Linked DNA regions of Homo sapiens: all the other regions are linked to region 1. The links come from fine-mapping of genetic effects on gene expression. A gene starts in region 1. Each other region holds a variant in brackets. All regions are shown on one strand. Distances are between the middles of the regions.

Region 1 (8,187 bases):
TATCTGAATCTTAAGATACACTAAGTTCTCTAGTTATGTGGTCAGATTTGTCCTTTAGGAAAATAATATTCTCATAAATAAGGAATGGAGTAAAAAGAGCTTAGAGGAAGTAAGACAAGGGAAGATACTATTGCACCAATCCAAATAGGAGGTGATAGTTTAAGGATTAAAGCTCAGAGTCCCAACACTATTTAATGACTTGAACTTCTTGAACTCAAGAAAAAAATTGACCATCTCCGTGGTAGCCAGAGAGAAAAACATTGCCATATGAGATTCAATAAAAGTTACAGCTATATGTAACACTGCAATGTCCTTCCCTTCAATAAATCATGGAAACCAGAATTGATTTTTTAATGATAATGGGCAGTTCAGCTGGAAATCAGAGGAGTGAATTATACAGACTTCTACAGATAATATTCTAGGTGGATAGGAAACTGATACATTTGATGTTACCATTAGCTTGTCTCTCTAAAGTTCCTTTAGAAAATAATTGAATATATAAATCCCTGATTCTTCTCCCTGAAGCAAACCACACAGAGTTGTTGTCCTTGTGAGAAACAGCTCACTTTCACATTAATGCCACAATTAAAAGCATCTGTCCATCCAACCTTGTGACTGTTGACCCGGGGCTCAGTTTGGAATCTACTGCTTGTTTTCTCTGTCCACAGCATCCTGGCTGGAGAAAAACTTTCTCTTGACAGGAAATCATATGACCTTGTTGTACCAAAGTTGCAGCTACTCTGGAGGTTGGTTATCTCTTTAAAGTGCCTCCCTCCCACCCCCCCAGCAGAATGTTCGCGGTGAATTTTATGAATGCCACTATCCTATATTTGACTGCCAAATTCAGCTATTTGGGGGGCTACATTAACAGATAAACAAGCAAACACACAGAAATGTAGGTCTGTAAGTCTAGGTCAGAAGATTATAGCTGACAGAATTTTTGAGTGGTGGCAAGAAGAAAGACGATGAGGATTTGAAAGTTTATACTGTGGCAACTGGGTAAAAGGTAATGTCATTGACCAAAATGAGGAGCAGATTTGAGGGATAGGACAGTGAGTTTAATTTTGGATATACTCAGTTTGAAGCACCAGTGGAAACTTTAAGTAGAGAAGTTTAGTGAGCAGTAAGAAATGAGGGACAAGAAAAGCTAAAGAAAGAGGAAAGCTGAAAATATTAAGCAGTTATTGATACATAAATAGAGGCTGAAGTTGATGAATTGGAGGCAAGTGCCCAGGATATTAGCGATGAGGAGAGGAGAGTGTCTAGGTCTATATGAGGTTGGAAAGAAAACTGTAAGATATGGTAAGAAGGTACTGCTTTGGTTAAAGTGAGAGAGGATGTGAAGAGATTAATATTAGAAGAGGGTGAGTAGGAGGAACACTGCAGGATAGCATCTCTAATGTAGTAATTAAATGGATGTGCATGGGAGGGCAATCAAAATGATTTCAATGTTTTGATCTTAGGAGGCTTGAAGGAAAGTATTACTATCTACTCTTCATTCATTCAGTCATTCAAAAAGAACACATAGGGCACCGTGTATGGGCTAGACACTGTGGCACTGACAGAAGTCAGGAGAATGAGCATGCTTTGAAAAGACAGTAATGAGTCTGGATTTACATATATTGAGTTTGAGATGCTTGTGGGTCATCATGATGCAAATGTCTAGCAGGTAGAAGCAAAAAAGAAAACTCAAGGGAAGAGATTGCTCCATAGAAGACTTGAAGTACCATTTGTAGATGAGATCACTAAGGGAGGTAAGAAAGGAATGTCTCTATTGTTACCTATGAACATATAGGTAATATCTGTGGATATTATTTGTGGGAGAAGAGGAGGAGAAGCAAACCACAAAGGAGAAGGAACACGTGTACCAATAAGAGATTTAGGAGAAGCATCAGAAAGGCCATGCAGATAAGATCCTTAAGAGGTGAGCAGGCTGTACCTCACATCCCACAGGCCTGTCACAGCAAATGAGATCAGAGAGAAAAGTGCTGAATCTGATTTGTCAAAGAGTGGGGATAGACACTCAACTACAAGGGACCATGGAAAGAGCTGACACTAAGAGTAGAGCCTGCAAGACGATATCATGATTCATGTGAGGGATTTTTAAAATAATGAAAATTTGAAAATGTCTGTAGCTCCAGGATAATGAAGCACAGGAGATATGAAAAACGAAAACATGGGAGAAGAAGAGATAATTCATAGGAAAAATAGCCTAGAGGAAGCAAGACAATAAGGGATCACAGGACTTGGGCAACAGCCAGGCAACATATGCCTTCACTGTGAGGTGAATTCTCATTAGCCTCACTTGTAATGACTTCATAGAACTGGAGTTAAGGATTTCACGTAAAAGAGAAAGATCCCTGGGCATCATCTTTTCAGGTCGTTTATTCTTAGTCATACAGCGTTCCAACGGAGAGGATGCACTCTAATTCTCCATAGAGAATTCTCTACCATATTAGCTCATACCCTCCTGTGCAAAACTAAACAGGAGTACTGAAAACAGCTAGTGTATGTTATGTGGGATGATCGCCTTCTTCATGAGTTAAATAGAAACTTGCAAAGAAAAGAGACAATTTCTAAGAAACTCTAAATATGGGGGTGTGGTGGGGTGGGGGCAGGTGTATGTTGCTCTCTTCCTTAAAAAAAAAAAAAAAAAGAAGGAGAAGAAGAAGAAGGAAAAAGCCCCTGGGAACTTGGGGAACAAGATGAAGATCAGGAAATCAAGGCATTTGTCCCAGCGTCACCCTTCCTACCTACTAATTCTGCATGCGTTGCTTTTATTGTCAGCTCTGGCCTCAGCTGCTTCGTAGTTGCACCGTAGTTCTTCTCAGAACTGAACCTATTTCTTTTTTTCTCATCCCCAAAGTGGCTGGTTTCTGGGCTTTGTTTGCTCTTGTTTCTTCATCACCGAGAAATACAGAAATATGAAAGCGCCTCACGGTGCCCAGAGTGACAAAAGGACACCCACACAAGTTTACCAGGACTCCTAAAAGTCCTTGCCTGAGGACTGTCCCCTAGCAACTACCCAGAGCTCGACGAAGCAAAGCCGGGAGCGCAAGCCCTGACAGCACCGCCAAGCCCCTAGCTCGGAGCAACAGCCTCCACCGCTTCTCCTCGCTAAACCTAGAGAACCCTGAGGACTCCCCACTGGGGCTGAGCCCCTCCCGCCCTCAACAGAACCTCTAAACACAAGTAGCCTTTCCCTGCCTCCAGGAGCTCACGAAACGCTGCCACACCGAGCGAATGCAACGCGTACACACGTCCACACTCGAACAGCACAAGCAAGAGACCGGCTGGGTGTGGAATAGAGGCGCACATCGCGCAACGCATTCACAGCATGCACACGCGCGCACCCCGACCCCGTCCCTCCCCGCGCGCCCTCACACCCCGGCGCCCAAGACCCCCGGCCCACGAACCTCACCAGACAGCCGGGTAACTTTCCAGGTGCGCAGCTTGTCACCTCGGCGCGGCCGCCCCTGCGTCTCAGCGTCCTCTCCCACGCCGCCCTCCCCAGCCGCCTGCGGCGCCGGAGCCCAGCGCAGGTCAGCTCAGCCAGCCCCGCCGTGCACACGGTGCGCAGCGTGGGCCCGGGGCTGCCGGCTCAGTCGCTCCGGCTACGTGTGAGCCGGGGGCGCGGGTTAGCGCGATGCGGGCAGGAGCTGCGGCGGCGTCGGTGCTGCCGCCTGGCTCCGCGGCGGGGGCCGGTGCAGAGGAGACACGCAGGGAGGGAGGGAAGAGAGGAGGGAAGGAGGAGGGAGGGGGTCAGCCGGGGCTACTGCCTGGATAGTTGGGCGCCGGCTTCCCTAAAGGTGGGGTCACCCGCGCCCGCACGCACACTAGCCCGAACCTTTACTCCCGACACAGCCGCAGTCTGCACTTTATACCCCATACCCTCCATAGTGAGGCAACTTAAGTAGGGCGATAACATCGTGGTTGTAAGCATTTTTGTTCATGTTATTATTTCTATTTCAAGTGTGTGGGACGAGGGGAGAGGAAAGTTCAGGGAGGTGTTCATTTTTTCCTTCCCCTCCCTTTCCTCCATCCTTCCAGTCTGTTTTCACTGCAGGCTCTCTCCACTTCGCCTTCCCTCCCAGAGCTCAAACAGGCGCACGTACCCTGGACATGCCCTCCTCTGTCACACCAATGCCTTTCTACGAAGACATGTGACCCCGAAGCAGCTCGTCGACGCGCCCCTCCCGGACTCTGGGGCCATAACTTACATCTAGTTTGCCAGTTCACGTGATGCTGGGGGCAGGGGTTGAATCGAGTTTCGAGGGACAGAGATTATACCTTCCGAATCTGCAGGTCTTTGGGAAGGGAGCTTTCTTGATCACCCAAGAAGATAATGCTCTCTCGTCACCTTTTGAGTACATTTTTTTTTCCTGAAGGGTGCAATATGGTTTCCTAAATATATATGTACACCCCACCGCATTATTTGCTGTGCTCTGGAGTTGTGAGATCTCCATGTGGCTTTTTCCCTTTCCTTCTGCCCCCAGAGGAATTTCACCAGCAAATTCACGGAGGACAAGGGCAGTTTCTGTGTTGAGAGATGGAAAGTATAGTGAGGGTCTATTCCTCACTGTGCATCTAGAGAATGTTACAACCAACTCTCTTGGGTTTTTAAACCACATGGTGGCAGTGGGGCTCATGTAACATTTGTATACACTGTTACATACATAAACTTATATTAAAAATGAGGCCCATGTAAAATATGTTGAATGAGACCATTAAGTTTCAGAGGAGGAGGAATATAGTCCTGTTTGTTTTTGTGCTAACTGGAGGAAAATCGCGAAAGTACACAAAGTACCTTTTCATGAAGCTATCCCAGAGTCTGTACATTTTATAAAGACCTCAAAAAAAAAAAAATTAGAGGAGAAAGGAGTGAGGAAGAATTCCACAAGAAAAGAGAAAATAAGTAATTGTATGTCACTGTAATAATGGACTTTTAAGTTGATGGGCTGAATTTTTATTAGCGATTTAATGACAAAAAGGAGAAAAACAGATTTTCAAAGTCTTCACTTTAAAAAAAAATTTCAGATTCAGGGGTACAAGTGCAGTCGCATTACACGGACATAACACATAGTGGTGAGGTCTGGGCTTTTAGCGCACCTATTACCCTAATAATGTGCACTGTACCTAATAAGTTGTAATTCCTACCTCACCCACCTCCCACCCTCCCACCTATTGGAGTCCCCAGTGTCTGTTATTCCATTCTGGATACTCATGCCTGCCCATTGTTTAGCTGCCACTTATAAGAGATTCTGCAGTTTTTGACTTTGTTTCTGAGTAATTTCACTTAGGATAATGGCCTCTAGTTCCATCCATGTTGCTGCAAAAGATATGATTTCATTGTTTTTGTGGCTGGGTAGTATTCCATTGTGTGTGTGTGTGTGTGTGTGTGTGTGTGTGTGTGTGTGTAGTACCCCTGAATCAAAAAAAAATTTTCCCAGTTTTTCAGGTGATAGGTACACAGTGTATGTGTGTGTATACCACCATAGTGTGTGTGTATATATTTTGTATATATATATATATATATATATGTGTATATATATAATATAAAACCACATTTATAAATCCAATCACCCCTTAATGGACACGTAGGTTGACTCCATGATTTTGCTATTGTGAATAATGCTGCAAAGTCCTTACATTTCATTGAGTCCTGGGCTTTTTTAAACAATGGGTTGCTAATTAATGGATTATAAAATTGATGTACTGGGTCAAAGCCAGCATTTTTAAAATGATACCAAATAGAATAAAAAATAGCAGAGTATGCACGCACACTGGGTCAACTGGGTCATATGTACTTTCTTACCGTTCATTGAGGTAAAAGCTTGAAAGCTGTCGATGCAGTGCAGGCTGTTGCCCAGGGTCACCCAGCTAGGAAGAGTTTGAGGGGGAACCTAAGTTCCCTCCCAGCAATCCTATGCTCTGTCAAATCTACAACTCTACCATGCTGAACAAGGAAACGGAGGAAGAGAAGGAAAGTGACCACTTTTTGAGCTTTTAATTCAGTCTTTCAACAAATGTGCTTTCAGCAGCTCCTGCATCTCAGGCCCAGTGCTAAATACTTAGAATTCAATGGTGAACAAAATTAACTTGTGATCTCTGCCAACTTAGAGTGTACAATCCAGTGAGAGAAACAGACATTAAATAAGTAAACACAAAAGTAAGCATATGTGGGAGAAATACTGTGAAGGAAAATGAGAGAAAAAAATATGGGGTTATAATTTAGATGTGGGAGGCTGCAATTAATAATTAACCCAATTTAGAATGGCTTAAATTATAAGGAAACTTACTGTTTCACAAGGCAAGAAGTTCCAAGGTCAGGAGGCTCTAGTTGGTGAATTCAGGAACACAGTTGTGTCTGGGAAGGCCCTGGCCTGTTCCCGTTATTCCCCCTGCCATTCCCAGTATGGCAGCTTTGTCCCCTGGGGCTGCTCCACCCATGGCCCCAGGATGACTGGAACAACTCCATTTATTATGGGCAATCCCAACAGTGCCCAAAGGTCACAGAGATTCTCTTTTCCAGAGTCGGGAAATCGTTCTTGGAAGCTTCCAGGAGACTTCTCACCTGTCATTAATCCAAACTAAGCATGTGCTCACACCTAAATGCTGGAGGTGGAGGGGAGAATCACCATTCCCAGCCTCTTAGGCTCTGCAGGACTGGTTCCTAACTCTTCCCGATTGCATTCTTTGAGAAGTGCATACCCGAATAAAAAGGAGAGGGTGGCAATGGATGCTGGGTAGGCAATCTAGAGTCTGCTACAGGGGCTCAAGAATAATGTCTCTCTGGAAAAAAAAAAAGTGGAGGGCATTTAAACTTAAGATGAGTAAGAGTGAGACAGGGAGTGAGGAGGAAGCACCTTCAGGCTGAAGGAATCTGGCCTGTGATGTTGGACTCTGTGTCATGAGTTAAAGGCTTCCATGTAATTTCTCATTTACTCCTTTGACCTGAGGAGGTAAGCACACCTGAGGAAGGAAACTCAGAGAGTTAAGTAACTTTGATCAAATTCACAGAGCTAATAAGTTGCAGAGCCAGTCTATATAATTCCAGACCCTAAAATCTTGACTTCTTCTACCTGTACAAAGACAACGAGAAATTAAAATCCACTGGCCTTTCTTTGCCATTGACTGAAGAACACAGGCCCCTCAGAGGCCCGTCTGCAATGTTAATCTAAGCACATGGGCGATGTGGGACATACTCATGACTAATCCTCCTCCTACTAGGTAAGCCTCTGCTCCACTAGGTCTCCTGGTCTCTGCTAAGCACTGTCACCAGAGCACCAGAGTTCTCACATTGTCAAAGTTCAGAGGTAGCCTATGGAAATGGGGATGATAAAAGGCCTGTCTTCCCTTGTTTTATACACAGAAAAGTCCCCAAGCAGCCCAAGTGTTTCACAGAAACCTCCCGGTTTTGCCCACTTTCTGTTTCTTGCAGGGACCTGCATCCAAGAGGCTGAGCTAGGAAGAGATCCAGTAATGTTTCCATACTTAATTCAGACTCCCAAGCCCCTGGATGACTCAATTTGAGTTCAGGATCATCCCATGCCAATCTTATTTTCTTGGGATAAATTTCCACACAGGAGGCTCTATAGTTACCTTTGCACACAGACTCCTGTCAGGGCACCCCATCAGATCAGCCTTGTGCTCATAATCTTTAATTCCAGCTTGGAGCCCTCCAAGGCCCAACTGAGGTCCCTTCTATGGATCAGCAGAAAATCTCCTGGGGACATAAGAGGGACAAAACTCCCATGCTGGTGATTCACACTCCATTTTCTCACCATGTCTTTGGTTTTCTTTCCTTCCCTCTTTTATTCTTTCATTTATCTTCAGGCTTCCTTATCCTACCACACTAACTCCATGAGCAGCCATTTCAGTTGCTAAGGCTAGAACCTCAAGTCATAGTGCCCTCCTTTCTGATTGGTTTTGCCAAACCCTAGCCAAGAGAAAATCCCATTTGCCTTTGATGCTTTTGTTGTCCAGGTTCCAGCATCACTCAATATGGTTATAAAACTGGGCCAATTGGATCCACCCAAATTTTCATGTTATCTAAGCTCCGTGCAGCCCACAATCCCTTTATTTACCTCAATACCTCTTCCATGAAGTCTTGCTGACCATGAAGGATAGTGCTTCTCTCCCATGACCCCACAGCAACATGGTGCTCCAAGTTACAAATCCTTGTTA
Region 2 (8,187 bases), 63 kb before region 1:
AATTAAACATCCACTTTTATTAGGGAATGTACTAACTTTGTATGAAAACACCACCATCACTTACACCTCCCAAAAACTGCTGCTTTTAAACATCATAATTTATATCCCCCCAAAAAAAGATTTGAAATGTGCCCCAGTAGAGGTTATGTACACAAAGAATTCAGAGGAGAAGAAGATAATTGCACTGGGAACAGAGAAGAATAAGTGACTACAAATGTTTATGGAATCTCATTCTGAGCTTTGTGAAAGTCAAAATAAAATAGCTCTCCTCTGATCAAAGGAGAACTATTCACTAACAAGAAGGCAAAACTGAAATTAACTTATCAGAGAAATGTATTGGAAAAACAGTCAAGTAATTAGCATAAGATCAACCAATCATTAATAAAATAAAAAAGTAGTTTCAGTGCCATATCACCCAATTAATTAAATACTAAAATACTTTCATTTCAAAGTGTAAAGTGTATATTTTTCCATTAAAATCTCTGAAATTAGAGCATGTCTTAAAATTGATAAATTGTAGTGTAATTAGCAGCATTTTCTTTTTCTTAGGTGTATATAATATAGCAGTGCATCTTATAATTGACATCTTGCAATTATATATGATCCAATGGTAGCAAATTTAATTACCTAATGAATGCCAGTGGGTATCAGGTAAAGTACTTCTTTACAGACCTTTACTTATATTAGCTTCCTCCCTCTATTAGTTATAAACTAAAAGACACACACACAAAAGGTACATCCACAAGGCACCCAGTGCTCTGAGATTCATTTAAGATGACTTGGGAGTACTAAGCATACCCTGGAGTATGCTTTGGGACTCTTCTAGGCAACTTCATCAAAAATGTTATCGCACAAAGTGTATTTCCTTTGCCTTCTCTTAGTAATGGGACAGGAAAAACACTGGCAGCCCATCTCTACTATTTCAAAGACCCCTATCTACCTAGCTCACATTCTGAGACCTTCTGACATAACTCACTGTCCCTCCCAAGTTTACAGGGTCCTTGTTAGAAGATATCAGTGAAAACACTTCAGTTTCATGGACCTTTGAGACAGCAGCAGGAAAATTTGTGCTTGTATATGTAGAGGTAGAGATAGAGATAGAGATGGTGGATGTAGAGCCAGACAGATCTAGAAATAGACATAAGCATAGACATAGACATAGACACAGACATGATCTTGATTGTAGGCCAACCATTTGATCTGTGAGCTTAGAGAAAGGAAAGGCATATGGTATTCCTTTTGCATGTCAGTATCATGATTTTGACTGAGAATATTCTCTGCAAACATTTTACAAGTATTAGATGTATGCAAATACACTTATGTTTCTTCCATAGTAACTGTGTAAGTGCCATAGATTTATTTTTGCACATAAAATTCTGAAAGAACTCCAGGGACTATTTAATGTCAAGTCATGGAAATATACAGAATATAAGGATTACTGAATCACGGTCAGTGGCCCTAAAATGTGATAGCATTAAAAGGCACAAAAATATAAAAATATTTGTCTCCAACTTTCCTTCTCATTGATTTTAGCTTAATGCTTTCAAACACCTTTAGGAGTTGAGTGTCTATCTTAAACATAAATTCCCATGCTTTTTTTATTGGAAAACACTATAATTGGCTAGCCACAACATATAGCATAAATTATTTCAGGCCCAGCAAAACTGAATAACATATTTTCTTTCAAGAGCTATTTTGACTCTATACTGCATTTATAAAGTGCTGTGCACTTTCAAGCTTCCGTTGTTTTGCTTGAAAGTATGAGAAAATCTGTAAGCGTTAAGAACAAAGACACTGAAGCCCTGGATAATGATATTACATTATTATATTGCATGAATGTATTTATATTCTGTTACAAATAAACACAAAGAATATTAATTTTCCTAATATTGAAACAAGTTCATTACCGGCTATAAAGTGGTAAAGAAGAATTCAGCTTATCTTTAAATCCCACTTTTAAATTGCTACATAATAGCTAAAACTTTATTTTTTTGGTTTTCTTTAAAAACTAAGAGATTTGTGATTTTTAAAGACTCAAATTTGTCTTCAGGTAATATCTGAACACTTTTTCTTTGCTCTGTACTTATGTAAACCTGATCTACAAATCAGCAGAATTGGGGTTTCATAGGCAAAGGTTAAGAAGATAAATGAACAGGAATACTATTCCTTTTCCAAAAGCATACAGTTGAAACAAATGCATTTAATCATATGTAAATTTTAACTGATTTCTTAAATAATTCCAAGTATTAACTTGAAAACATAGATAATTCCAATAAAGTGTGTTGCTCTAACTTTAACTTAATATTTTATAAAGTTATTTATATTTAGGAAAATGCATTTGATCAGACTTGAGGTTTTATGAGTTCCAGGAAATGCAAAGTGTCCCTCGAGCCATTTAATTAACTTTTAAAAATATTTCTTCCATAAATTAGATCAACAGTAAATAAACTCATACCTCAAGACTGAAGGTTGTGGTAAAAATTGCAAATATACTATTTTGAGTTGTTTTTAAAACTTGCAAAACGAGCTGATAAAAATTCTTAAGAAAAATACTTTTGACCTGATGATTTAAAAGCACACAAAATATATAAAATTATTTCGTAATTTTTAAAAAGGTGAAAACTCTAAAGTAGGCAATATTTCAAATGTTGGGAATATAAAGATCTGTATACAAGTGTAATTTTTCCATTTTTAACCTTTTCTCAGACCCTTTTTTGAAACTAAAAAGTTTAATAGAACACCAATTTCATTTTCACTAGCAAACTTAAGATTTTCCAATTATTTCCTCTGCAAATTAGCATACTCATTTCCCGCATAAAAATTTAAGAAATCACTTCAAAATATTTAATATTAGGATATTTGTTGCCATTAACTTGGTAGCTCAATTTAACAACTCTAAATGATTTTATATAAAAAATAGTCGAAGCATTTTATCCAAAGTATGGCATATAATTCATGAATTCACCTGATAAGAGCTTTTTCTCCAAAGTATTCTCCTTTCTGCAGTGTTTTTATCAGCTGTGGTTGATCATGGCCTTCTGTGCTCTGTGTTACTTTTACCTAAACAATGTTAAGCAATACAAACAGAAAGAGACTGAAGAAAAAGGAGAATCTGAACACACATTCATTCAACCAAACCCTCTAGACCTATATAAACTTGGACAAGGAAAAAGACAATACTTTGTTTTAATTTTATGGTAATTAGGACAATTACCTACATTCAGCCCATTTTGATGGATGTGGGAAGTCCTATGGTCTAATATTATCAAATAACTACCCACTGTAAGAGGAAAATTCACCATCTAAACTCCACCTCCTAAAGTTAAATTTTAAATGTGAATCCAGTGATTCCTTCTGAGAGATCCACAAAGCAAATAATAATGGTCTTGTGGGAACTTTTTCTATTTTAAAAAGCCTAATATAGTTGACAAATTAATCAAAAATAAGGTTGAGTATCAGTAGTTCTGAGTCTGGTATCAATAGATTGACTGGCCGAATCCTGTGCACCTCCTAAAACTGAATGCAAAATGTTGATTGAAGAAGGGTCTACAACTTTCATGGGCATCTCAAAGCAATCTGTTGCCCAGAAAGGCTTAAGAACCCCCCACCCAGCAGGGCCAAACAGAAAAAGCCCTGTTTGTGGCTAGAGTTATTCCAATTCAACATGGTAACAAGTGCTGATTCAGGCTGAATAGAAATTCTGTTTGGCATTTATGTATGTCACAATGAATTAAAATTTTAAAAATAAAAAATGCAATTTTTTATCACCAAGAATTATTTCAAAGTATGGGGTCTAGGTTGGGAAAAAATGACAAGAAGTAGTTCCTAGTGTTGAAGAGTTTCAGAGGTTTGAAACTATTTTGTTCATGTTTTTCCTTCACTTGGGGCCAAATTCAAAGTTCAACCACAATCCAGTTTACAAATGGCAGTGCCTGACTCCCTGATGGTAAACCCTTCCATATAACATATGTAAAAATCTGACAGTTTATACACACAGGTGCTCAAGAATTGGCCCTTCCCTTCAATATTTCACAAATGCTTTTCATCTCTGAGTAATACTGTTGAGTCAACATTGGAACAACTGGCAACATGTTATCCATTCAATATCTAGGTAAAGAAAAAGACTTATTGTACATGTTAGTATAAATTTTGCATCAGCATCTAAATTCACTTGAGCTGTTTTGTATCAATTGAAATTCTGAGCCATATTGGTTCTATAAGCCTGATACCTAATCATGACTGTCTTCAATTGCTGAATTCATTCTCCACCTGCTACTTGTCATATCTATTGGATAAGAAAATATTCTAGTACTGATCTTGGAATCTGGGGATGATTGAGAATCACATAGTCATAGCCAGAAGGGACCTTATAAATAATCCAGCCATCTCATATACAATTAAGCTAGGTCTCTCCCCAAAAAATCAAGTGACCTACATAACATCACTAAGAAGTTATTATTTCTTAGGGGGTCCTGTGGCCTCCACTCCAAAGCCAGTGTTCAAACAGAATTGCATGGGACTCTACTGGTAGAAGCTCCTTTATCTGTCCAAAGTGGAGGACCTATGTTGCAATGCAAAGCATAGTTGAGTTTATGGCAAACTGATTTAAAATAATCTTTTTTATTTAGTAAGTTTTAATTAATAGTTACCTTTCCTTTTGCCAAAATGAAAAAGGTACTTCCTTCCTCGCCCTCTCTAATGATGTAATCTCCTTTGTCATAGTATTCCTGTTGGGATGAGAGAGAAAGAAAATGTAAGAGCGGGTGGAGCCAAGATGGCCTAATAGGAACAGCTCCAGTATACAGCTCCCAGCGTGAGCGGCGCAGAAGACGGGTGATTTCTGTATTTCCATCTGAGGTACCGGGTTCATCTCACTAGGGAGTGCCAGACAGTGGGCACAGGTCAGTGGGTGCGCGCACCGTGCGCGAGCCGAAGCAGGGCGAGGCATTGCCTCACTCAGCAAGCACAAGGGGTCAGGGAGTTCCCTTTCCTAGTCAAAGAAAGGGGTGATGGACAGCACCTGGAAAATCGGGTCACTCTCACCCGAATATCGCGCTTTTGGGACGGCCTTAAAAAAACGGCGCACCACGAGATTATATCCCCGCACCTGGCTCGGAGGGTCCTACGCCCACGGAGTCT[T/C]GCTGATTGCTAGCACAGCAGTCTGAGATCAAACTGCAAGGCAGCAGCGAGGCTCGGGGAGGGGCGCCCGCCATTGCCCAGGCTTGCTTAGGTAAACAAAGCAGCCAGGAAGCTCAAACTGGGTGGAGCCCGCCACAGCTCAAGGAGGCCTGCCTGCCTCTGTAGGCTCCACCTCTGGGGGCAGGGCACAGACAAACAAAAAGACAGCAGTAACCTCTGCAGATTTAAATGTCCCTGTCTGACAGCTTTGAAGAGAGCAGTGGTTCTCCCAGCACGCAGCTGGAGATCTGAGAACGGGCAGACTGCCTCCTCAAGTGGGTCCCTGACCCTGACCCCCGAGCAGCCTAACTGGGAGGCACCCCCCAGCAGGGGCACACTGACACCTCACACGGCAGGGTACTCCAACAGACCTGCAGCTGAGGGTCCTGTCTGTTAGAAGGAAAACTAACAAACAGAAAGGACATCCACAGCAAAAACCCATCTGTACATCACCATCATCAAAGACCAAAAGTACATAAAACCACAAAGATGGGGAAAAAACAGAGCAGAAAAACTAGAAACTCTAAAAAGCAGAGCGCCTCTCCTCCTCCAAAGGAACGCAGTTCCTCACTAGCAACAGAACAAAGCTGGACGGAGAATGACTTTGACGAGCTGCGAGAAGAAGGCTTCAGACGATCAAATTACTCTGAGCTACGGGAGGACATTTAAACCAAAGGCAAAGAAGTTGAAAACTTTGAAAAAAATTTAGAAGAATGTATAGGCCGGGCGCGGTGGCTCACGCCTGTAATCCCAGCACTTTGGGAGGCCGAGGCGGGCAGATCACGAGGTCAGGAGATCGAGACCATCCCGGCTAACACGGTGAAACCCCGTCTCTACTAAAAATACAAAAAAAAAATTAGCCGGGCGTAGTGGCGGGCGCCTGTAGTCCCAGCTACTTGGGAGGCTGAGGCAGGAGAATGGCGTGAACCCGGGAGGCGGAGCTTGCAGTGAGCCGAGATCCCGCCACTGCACTCCAGCCTGGGCGACAGAGCGAGACTCCGTCTCAAAAAAAAAAAAAAGAAGAATGTATAACTAGGATAACCAATACAGAAAAGTGCTTAAAGGAGCTGATGGAGCTGAAAACCAAGGCTCGAGAACTACGTGAAGAATGCAGAAGCCTCAGGAGCCGATGCGATCAGCTGGAAGAAAGGGTATCAGCAATGGAAGATGAAATGAATGAAATGAAGCGAGAAGGGAAGTTTAGAGAAAAAAGATAAAAAGAAACGAGCAAAGCCTCCAAGAAATATGGGACTATGTGAAAAGACCAAATCTACGTCTGATTGGTGTACCTGAAAGTGATGGGGAGAACGGAACCAAGTTGGAAAACACTCTGCAGGATATTATCCAGGAGAACTTCCCCAATCTAGCAAGGCAGGCCAACATTCAGATTCAGGAAATACAGAGAACGCCACAAAGATACTCCTCGAGAAGAGCAACACCAAGACACATAATTGTCAGATTCACCAAAGTTGAAATGAAGGAAAAAATGTTAAGGGCAGCCAGAGAGAAAGGTCGGGTTACCCTCAAAGGGAAGCCCATCAGACTAACAGCAGATCTCTCGGCAGAAACTCTACAAGCCAGAAGAGAGTGGGGGCCAATATTCAACATTCTTAAAGAAAAGAATTTTCAACCCAGAATTTCATATCCAGCCAAACTAAGCTTCATAAGTGAAGGAGAAATAAAATCCTTTACAGACAAGCAAATGCTGAGAGATTTCATCACCACCAGGCCTGCCCTAAAAGAGCTCCTGAAGGAAGCACTAAACATGGAAAGGAACAACCGGTACCAGCCACTGCAAAATCATGCCAAAATGTAAAGACCATCGAGACTAGGAAGAAACTGTATCAACTAACGAGCAAAATAACCAGCTAACATCATAATGACAGGATCAAATTCACACATAACAATGTTAACTTTAAACGTAAATGGACTAAATGCTCCAATTAAAAGACACAGACTGGCAAATTGGATAAAGAGTCAAGACCCATTAGTGTGCTGTATTCAGGAAACCCATCTCACAGGCAGAGACACACATAGGCTCAAAATAAAAGGATGGAGGAAGATCTACCAAGCAAATGGAAAACAAAAAAAGGCAGGGGTTGCAATCCTAGTCTCTGATAAAACAGACTTTAAACCGACAAAGATCAAAAGAGACAAAGAAGGCCATTATTTAATGGTAAAGGGATCAATTCAGCAAGAAGAGCTAACTATCCTAAATATATATGCACCCAATACAGGAGCACCCAGATTCATAAAGCAAGTCCTGAATGACCTGCAAAGAGACTTAGACTCCCACACATTAATAATGGGAGACTTTAACACCCCACCGTCAACATTAGACAGATCAACGAGACAGAAAGTCAACAAGAATACCCAGGAATTGAACTCAGCTCTGCACCAAGCTGACCTAATAGACATCTACAGAACTCTCCACCCCAAATCAACAGAATATACATTTTTTTCAGCACCACGCCACACCTACTCCAAAATTGACCACATACTTGGAAGTAAAGCTCTCCTCAGCAAATGTAAAAGAACAGAAATTATAACAAACTATCTCTCAGACCACAGTGCAATCAAACTAGAACTCAGGATTAAGAATCTCACTCAAAACCGCCAACTACATGGAAACTGAACAACCTGCTCCTGAATGACTACTGGGTACATAACGAAATGAAGGCAGAAATAAAGATGTTCTTTGAAACCAACAAGAACAAAGACACAGCATACCAGAATCTCTGGGATGCATTCAAAGCAGTGTGTAGAGGGAAATTTATAGCACTAAATGCCCACAAGAGAAAGCAGGAAAGATCCAAAATTGACACCCTAACATCACAATTAAAAGAACTAGAAAAGCAAGAGCAAACACATTCAAAGGCTAGCAGAAGGCAAAAAATAACTAAAATCAGAGCAGAACTGAAGGAAATAGAGATACAAAAAACCCTTCCAAAAATTAACGAATCCAGGAGCTGGTTTTTTGAAAGGATCAACAAAATTGATAGACCACTA
Region 3 (8,187 bases), 41 kb after region 1:
AAATGTAGATTGATAAAGGGATGAAGTTTATTGAGATTTTACTCTACAAGAAGCATGGGAACAACAAGGACGTAATAATCCAGTAGCCTTGGTTTCCCTTTTAATGCAGACAGTGTAGATGGGGAATACAATCTTTCCCCTAGAAATCAAGGCAGAGATTATTTTCAACAATACAGAAAAGCTTGCTCTCTAACGTTTTCTTATTCCATTTATTATCTCCCCTCTATTTTGTTTCATTCATTTCTCTATCTCCTCTGACTGTTTGCCCATAGTCTATCTACATGCTCAGGACTCCAGAATCCATTAACCTGATTTTGCCTCATTCTACCTCCTAACATTTTCTAGTCTTTTATACATACAAGTGGGGATTTATATGCAATTGGGACTAAGTGGGAGAAAGTTGATAAGAAAGAGTAGGAAATTCAAAACGCTAGGTAGGAAATCTAAACTCTGCAGAATCAGGATTAAAGATTCAAGCCTAGATCTAAGAGAGGAGGCAATGGAACGAGTGATGGAGTAATGGCTGAAGAAGAGGCCAGGTAAAGGAAAAGAGTGGTCAGAAGACCAAATAAGAGACAATGTCTTCAACTAAAGGTACAAAGAAACCTAGTATAAGGCCAGGTATGGAGGCCATACAGGATTGCAAACGAGGTACTCCAACTTTTACATATACTTTTAGGGTGAGCCCTTAAAATAGTAAGTTCCCATTGAACAATGTCTATTTTTTAAATGCTACAATTAATGGATCAATGCTTCTAAAGCTTTTTGTAATTTGATCACAGTCTATGTTTTGGTCAACTATCTTGGTCATATATTCCTAGTAAACTACTTCCTCCTTCACCTTTCTGTAATTTTATTCATACTATCCTTAGTCTAGATAGAGTGTTGTCTAATAGAACATTTTCTGTTGAGGGACATGTTCTATATCTACATGGTCCAATACAGAAGCCACTAGTCATATATGACTGGAGACTAATATATTGGACAGCACAGGTCTAGAATCTTCTTTCCTATTTTCAAATCTGTTGAAATTCTACTCTTTCCTTTCAATGCCCATCACTGTAGAGAACGCAGTCAATGTTTCACCCATAGCCTCTCAGATCTCTTTTACCACTGCTGTTTGTGTTTCTCCTGGCCTCTCAGCTTGTGCTTCTAATAGCTTGTACCTATAACTCACTTCACAGGACTGTCCTGAAACTGCTGGAGCCATTGTGCTCATAGAAGCAGAGCTCAGAGGGCCTGGGAGTTTATGTCCTGCCCCCTCTCCCCAGCCTCACCCCAGGGCAGCCCTTAGCCCCTGACTGACTGGTACAGGAGCATAAAAATCAAGCTCACTTTCCTTTGACTCAGGCCAACCCTAAGGTAAAACTCAAAACTCTAGGGTCCTCCTGCAATATCAGGCTAAAACTGCCTCTCCAGGACTTTGCCTGAAATCTCACCCTTATGCTTGGCTTCTTTCTGTTCCCTGTTCTGCTTCACCCCTTTCCTTACTAGTTTCTTCTGGGAGCACTTCTTCGCTTGCACATGAATCTTCATATCAGGGTCTGTGTCTAAGACAAACTAAAATGCTAATTCATCTGTGAAGCTTTGATTGGGAACCTCAGTCCCCAATCAAAATTAAGTATAGCACTTCATTTATATCTTCATATGGCACCATTTAAAAGTTAGACAATTATATTCATGACTGGTTCCCTGTGAACTGTGTCCCCCTAAAATTCATATGTTGTCCTAACCCCCAATGATTGTATTTGGATATAAGACTTTTAGGGAAGTACTTAAGATTAAATGAGGTCATAAGCATGGGACCTTAATCTGATATGACTAGTGTTCTTAAAAGAAGAAGAGACACCAGAGATCTCTGTCTCTCTCTCTCTCTCTCTCTCCCGCCTCCCTCTCCCTTCCTGTCCCTGTGTACCCAGAGAAAAGGACACAGCAAGAAGGAGGCCATCTACAAGCCAGAAAGAGAGGCCTCACCAGAAACTGAATCCGCCAACACCTTGATCTGGGACTTCTAGCTTTTAGAATTGTGAGAAATGAATTTCTGTTCTTTAAGCCACTCAGTCTGTGGTGTTCTGTTAGTTATGGCAGCCTGGGCAGACTAATACAGTCCCCAACTAGAATGTAAACTCTCAATGATTAAGAATCATGTATTCTCCTGCTCAGTGTCTTGTATGTTAAAGGTTCTTTAAAATGTTTGTTGAATGTATTGACTATAAAGGAAAAAGTGGACATAATGGTTTTTCTGATAATTTTTTATAAAAATATTGTATGATTTAAAAGTATTAAAGTTGTAGAAAAGAGAGTTTGTTGCCATGAGGTATTTATCTATTGTACTACAGATTCTTTACATACTCAGTAGTGATGGCTAGTCATTCTTTAAGTTGAAAAAAATTAATATAAAAGTGACTCACATACTCACTGACAAAAACAATGATCATACCTGCTGATTTTTATGAATTCTTCAAATTTAAGAGTCTTTAGAAACCCAATTAGGGATAACTCAGATGTATGATTGAGCTGAATCAGTGACACACATACAAAAGAAAAAAAAAGCTATATCCCTCCCATCCTTTGTTGATCACAAGTTAGTAAAACATGAACCATGGTGAATATCTTGTAGTGACTTAGAAATGTATAGTTGAAAGCACTCAATAAATACTTAACAGATGAACAAATATGCTTAACACAAGCAATAAAACAGGTCACAGAATAGTACTTTTTTTAAATAAAAAAGAAGTATATAGTTATATAGTAAATAAAAGAAAAAAATTAAACAAGAATCTTACAAATGAATGACTCTGAGTGGTGACATTTTTGGATGTTTCTATTAACTTCATCATAATTTGTTAGCTTTTTCCATGTTTTCTACAGTAAATATATATAATATTTGAAACCAGGAAAAAACAATATTTTTAATCCTCTAGCCACATCCACATCTTCCAGCTCTGCCTACACCAAAAATCAGCAACAGTAATCAAACAAAAAAATTAGGTTTGGATACGGGGAAATAAAAATGAAAATAACAGTTATTTTACTCATTGAGATGCCATTTACAATTCAATCCATTACAGAGTAATCAGCTTCTGAAAGCTTGAGCTTATGAGTCAGGCAAACCCAAGCACTAAGCTGTTATGATAAAGATGTAACCAAATACAAACCATGTGGAGCCAAGATGATTGTACAACTTGATTCTTTCCTTAGCACTCCCATAGAGCCCATGACCTGATGACAAAGGGCACTGATGATCAGAAATAAGTAATTCAGAGAATCTGTGCTGACCCAATTGCTCAGATTTCTCAAGGAAATATCCTAACTTTTCTCCTTTAGAAATTCACCTTTGGCAATAAAATAATTGGAAAAAATAAACCTCACTTCAACCTCACCACAGGGAGAGAGGGATGGTCTGTAAGGCACAACATTTTTAGGTAAGCTTAGTATTAGCCTCTGTCTAAAATTATTTGAAATGCTTAGCAATATTTATTTTTAAAATATATTTGTCTTTATATCTGTATATTATACATATAATAGCCCTGAGAAATTGGTAGGGCAGATATTATTATCCCTAATTTACTAAGATAGAATCTGAAGTCAC[C/G]TTCCGTCCCCTTGAAGCCTAGCTGCATTTTGAGCACTGTCCTTTTGACCTTGTATTCCAAGTGCATTCCAGCAGGTGTGGGCTTAAACACCCGAGGGATGGTCTGTGCACTTTGCAAGCTGAGAGGAAATAATATTGCTCTACCACTTCAGAAAACTGTTGAGTGCCCTGATCTCCTGAGAAATTCTCCCAAGTGTTTAGCAGAAATGCCCCACCCGTGAGTGCAGAATGGAGCCATGTGCCCCCGACTCACACTGTGGCCCTGCTTGCTCTTGCACCACCCATCCATCTGGGTGGTCTTCAGGGGAAGCCCTCAGAGGAAGACTGATTGAAACCAGAGTTGCTGTGCCACCCACACCAATTCTAGTTTCTGAACGCAGCCAGCTGAAGCATATTCGCTATCCTAAAATAATAAAAACAAATTAATGGAATTGACTCAAGGGAAATCAAGTTCCACTTATAGGCCTAGTGGCAGAAACAGCTGTTAAAATTCATTAAATTGGAAGCTCCTGTAGTAGCTTCTTAAGAATATTTTTCAAAGTCTTTGGACCACTACTATAAAAGACCAAGTTAAACATTATTCATCAGGAAGTGTTTTTGTGGAAGGACATGGAATGCATTTGGAAATCTGCATAGCATGTAAGATTGTGGCTGGATCATTCGCAAAGTTTGTATTTCATTAAGCTTTGATAGATAAGCCTGTTGTAATTTGAAAAATTAAGATCAATCTCCGCATTAAAAATCCCCAAAGCATTTCCACTGAGTATGAATTTCCTTATCACAGAACTTTCTATAAGATATTTACAGATTTTGACAAGTCTGGCTATGAATTCTACAATAAAACTCTTAGTTAATAATGGCAACGATTTAAAATCTAAAATTTTTTTTCAAGAGTTGTTTATATACCTTTTCTTCTTTCAAAGGTATTTCTATGCTGTTAAAATAATTGTACTTTTTGTCTACATGAACTATCTTAAGAATTTCTATGTCAATAATAAAGGAATGTGTCTGATAACCAAAAAAAAAAAAAAAAAGTAGAGTTTGGATTGGATGACATCCAAGGACTTCTTTGACTTTTGATTCTAGAAACTAGAATTCCAAGGGTGCTATTCACATCGGTAGCAGCCAGCTCTCTAGATGCAGAGTTAAGGCCAACCAAATTCATTCTGCAAGAATTGAGGATGCCAACACTGACAATTAAGTTCCTAAATGTATCCATTGAGGTGGTTTGATTACAAATGTCAAAACTCAAATCTGACTAACTACAGGTAAAAGGGAAATAATTATAAGGTCCTGGTGGGGGCTCCCAGACCCAAAGGGAAATCTACAAAAGCAGAAACCTAAAAGGACAGGAATCAGGGCATTTGGAGGATCTAGGTAGCTAGTCTTCAGGATATTGCAAGAGGACCCACTGGCTCCAACCATTTTTCTTCTGCTCTTTAACCACTGGGCTCAAGAGCCTGGGGGGATAGTCCATTGTTTATATAGTGGATTGATATTCAATATCCATTCTGCCCTCATCTAGAGTCCCTTCAGTCATCGTTAAGGCCAGAAAGCTAAACATTATATTCCATAGTCTAGTTTGCAGACAGTGTTCCAGAAGGTACTTAATAATATTCAGCTAGTCACATGTGTTCATGTGAGATCAGAAAGGCAGAAGTGAGGTGGAGGCCACATTTGTGCTGCTTCTGCAATTTCTGGTGCAGAACATAAATGGCAAGGTGGTTGATTTTTCTGCAACAGCTTTAGCTGAAATCCCAGTAGCTAGCCACTTGTTAGATATTGAGAGGATGGCATGGGTCATCCATTTTGTTGGTGCAGTCCCAGCAGGCATGTCATGGCTCTGGGGCCAACAATTGTGGCCATGGTTTCTTATCTGTCAGTCACAGCTAACATGCATATTTCTGGTACCAATGATTACAACGACAATCAGAAGTTGGCATCGTGGTTCCCACTTCCGTGGCTTCCTGATGTTAACAGTTCTCTTTGCAGACTGTTACTTGTTATATAACAATTATTTTTTTCTGCAAATAATTACTGGATACTCCATTCTCTGTAATAAATCCCCTTCTGCTTAAACAGGTAAATAGTTCCATTTTAGTCCAATTGGCCATCATGGCTCATATGCCTACCCCTTGGTGGGGCTGATTGGCAGCCCCACCAAGATTGGCAACCCCATCAAGTACACACAACGGAAGAGGGAAAATTTCCCAGAAGAAAATAAGATGCTCTTATCAAAATAAAAGGGAAAATTGACTGTGAGTGGCAGAAAATAACAACCAACCATCCTGTAAATAAATACAAAGATAATTAATCAACATCATTTTCAGGGTGTCTTGTAGGCCCATTACACAAAGCAAAGTTTTCTGAAGTCCTGAAATATTACAATACATTATGAAAGCTTAACTACCCTAAGGCAAGGAGTCAGGGAATGCTTCAGAAAAAGACATCTGATCTCAGTCTGAAGGATCAAAGAAATATGAAGGTCTTTCTAGGTAGTGGAAAATTCATGTCTTAATTGGCACTCTGTGTCTGTATGTGTGTGTGCACACATGCTCACGCACATGTGTGTTGAGTATCTAAATAAAGATTGAAGAGTGGATTAATTAGTAAAGAGGAAAGTTTCATTTTGAGCATTTCTCTCACTAGCAGTTGTACATTTCATAGTAGGAAGGAACCATAAAAAGGCATTGTAAACAATCAAGACACTGTAGATTCAGGTTAGCTAGCCAGAGATTCCAAGAGCCCATACCCAGAGGACACACAGAAGCAGGCAGTTGCCTACCACTACCCTTTTAATTGCCCTATGCATTCTGACCTCCTTAGATAGAAATTGGATTTAACACCTGAACATGTTCCAAATGTCAAGGTTCATTATCCATGGACTTCCACATCATATGACTTTTTTTTACAACTTCCCAACATTCTTCCCTGGGCTTAGTTTTCCTCTCATAGTCATGGTCACTAGCTCATGGATTAGCTCCTGGAGATGCTAGGTTTGGGCTTCCATTTACTCCTACTTTCCCAAGAGAAGCTAGACCCCTATTATTTCATTCTCAATGCCAGGTAAGGGTATAGCTTTATTTCTATCCTGATCTGTGACTTTGCTATTTTTCTCACTCAGCCATTTCACACATTGAATTGAACTTTTACCTGCATTGAAAGTGCTATTGAGACAATATTGTCACAGTGACACTTTGACCCAAACTCACACAATCTGTTTTTATGTGTCACCTGGTAGCACCATCAAGAGCAGGAAGGGAAGGAAAACCAACACTAATTGAATTTCCATTATATGTTACATATGTGTCTAAGACCTTTCCCATGTGTTATTCATTTCATATAATTTATACAGTGGTTTGTGTCCCAGAGTCAATCATCCTTCAGTCTATGTCAGCACTTCCCAGGGACTTGCTACAGCAGAATTCAGCTTAATTAACTACCTTCCTTTCAGCAATGTCCTCTCTCCCACTCAACCTGCCTTTTAATCCAGGTGACTCTCAAATGCCATCTCCTCTGCCCTTCCTTTTACCACAGCCATCCTCAGAAACCACTTCAGTCCTACCTCCCTGCTTTCCTAGTCTTTTTCTTTCCAATCTTTCTACAGTGAAGCTTGAACCCCAGCCCCAGTGTTAAGCCAGCTCTAAGTAAAATGTACCTATCCCCTCAGATACCAGTACTGACCTCACAGAGAGGAAGAAATTACGATAGGAATCAAATTTCAAACATTCCTACCACTTTTCTGAAACTATGTCCACCTGTTTTGAATCAGTGTCATGTATTAAGCGAATGTGATTCTTCCAACAGGATAAAAATGAGTAGATGTTACCTATCACACAATTTTTCAAAGCTTTTCTTCTCTTCTTGACCTTCTACATTTTCTTTCCAAGTAGCAAGAGGAGTACTAAAAGATAAGGTTTCAAAATATGATAGAGTATTCCTCAAAAGATTAGGGAGTAAAGATAAAAACGAATAGTGATGAAGCAGCGCTGAAGAGACCTCTGTGCGCTGCTGAAAAAAGAGAAGAGTCGTGACTTCCCTATGTACAAGCTTCTTCATGCACAAACCCACCCACAAATTTACCATTTACTCTTCTCACACAGCATTTAAAAGTCTCATGTGTTGCATTGCCTCCATTTTTCACACACTGAATTCCTAAGCATAAAAGCTTTTTTAAAAAATCTATTTTTGCAATAGAATTTCTGATATTAGGTGCCGGATCAGGCTCTGTCTTGTAAAACAACTATGGCGATAGCCAAGTGGGAAAAGAGTGCTAAGTTCCTGAAAGAACCGTGAGAAGTGGAGTCCAGACACCTTTCCAGGGCTTGTGGTGTTAGTACAAGGCATTTCTACTTCTCTCCTCCCATCCGGCAACACTATGAGATGAGAAATAGGAGCCAGATAGAGTTCGCTTTTAGGGGAGTACAGTGGGTTTTTTAATAAAAAGAAACTATTTCCTCCCTGCAGCTCCCCCTACTGGAAAAAGGGGATTTTTTCCTCCCTCAATCTTGTGGGTAGCCCCACAAGATTTCTGGTAGGATTTAGGGTGACGGCAGGAAGTGGAGACTGATGTTTCATTCCCTAGTTACAGTCCT

Alleles and levels. Positions count from the first base shown, and alleles are read on the strand shown. Sizes are in standard deviations (SD) of each study's normalised expression. Not every link is listed here.
As copies of G replace C in region 3, the expression in tibial nerve of the gene that starts at base 3,708 in region 1 goes up (moderate effect, 0.48 SD a copy in GTEx).

The links. PIP is the estimated chance that this variant, and not a neighbour inherited with it, causes the effect.
Region 2: its variant is fine-mapped to the expression of PRKG2 in blood mononuclear cells (TOPMed, PIP 0.92).
Region 3: its variant is fine-mapped to the expression of PRKG2 in tibial nerve (GTEx, PIP 0.94).

Annotation. Positions count from the first base shown.
Region 1 is chr4:81,211,515-81,219,701 of GRCh38, forward strand. PRKG2 (protein kinase cGMP-dependent 2) reads right to left here and starts at 3,708. Exons shown (of 19, transcript NM_006259.3): 1 at 3,422-3,708. LOC124900726 (a long non-coding RNA gene) reads left to right here and starts at 3,372. Exons shown (of 2, transcript XR_007058162.1): 1 at 3,372-3,444; 2 at 4,051-4,710. RefSeq lists enhancers at 2,740-3,240, 3,241-3,741.
Region 2 is chr4:81,148,995-81,157,181 of GRCh38, forward strand. It overlaps PRKG2 (protein kinase cGMP-dependent 2), which reads right to left. Exons shown (of 19, transcript NM_006259.3): 7 at 4,650-4,727; 8 at 2,966-3,060. Among named protein-coding and RNA genes, the nearest start is that of PRKG2-AS1, 12 kb to the right of the region's middle. RefSeq lists enhancers at 4,470-4,984, 4,985-5,498. The variant T/C (reference allele first, on the strand shown) is at 5,140.
Region 3 is chr4:81,252,557-81,260,743 of GRCh38, forward strand. No RefSeq gene overlaps it. Among named protein-coding and RNA genes, the nearest start is that of PRKG2, 41 kb to the left of the region's middle. The variant C/G (reference allele first, on the strand shown) is at 3,593.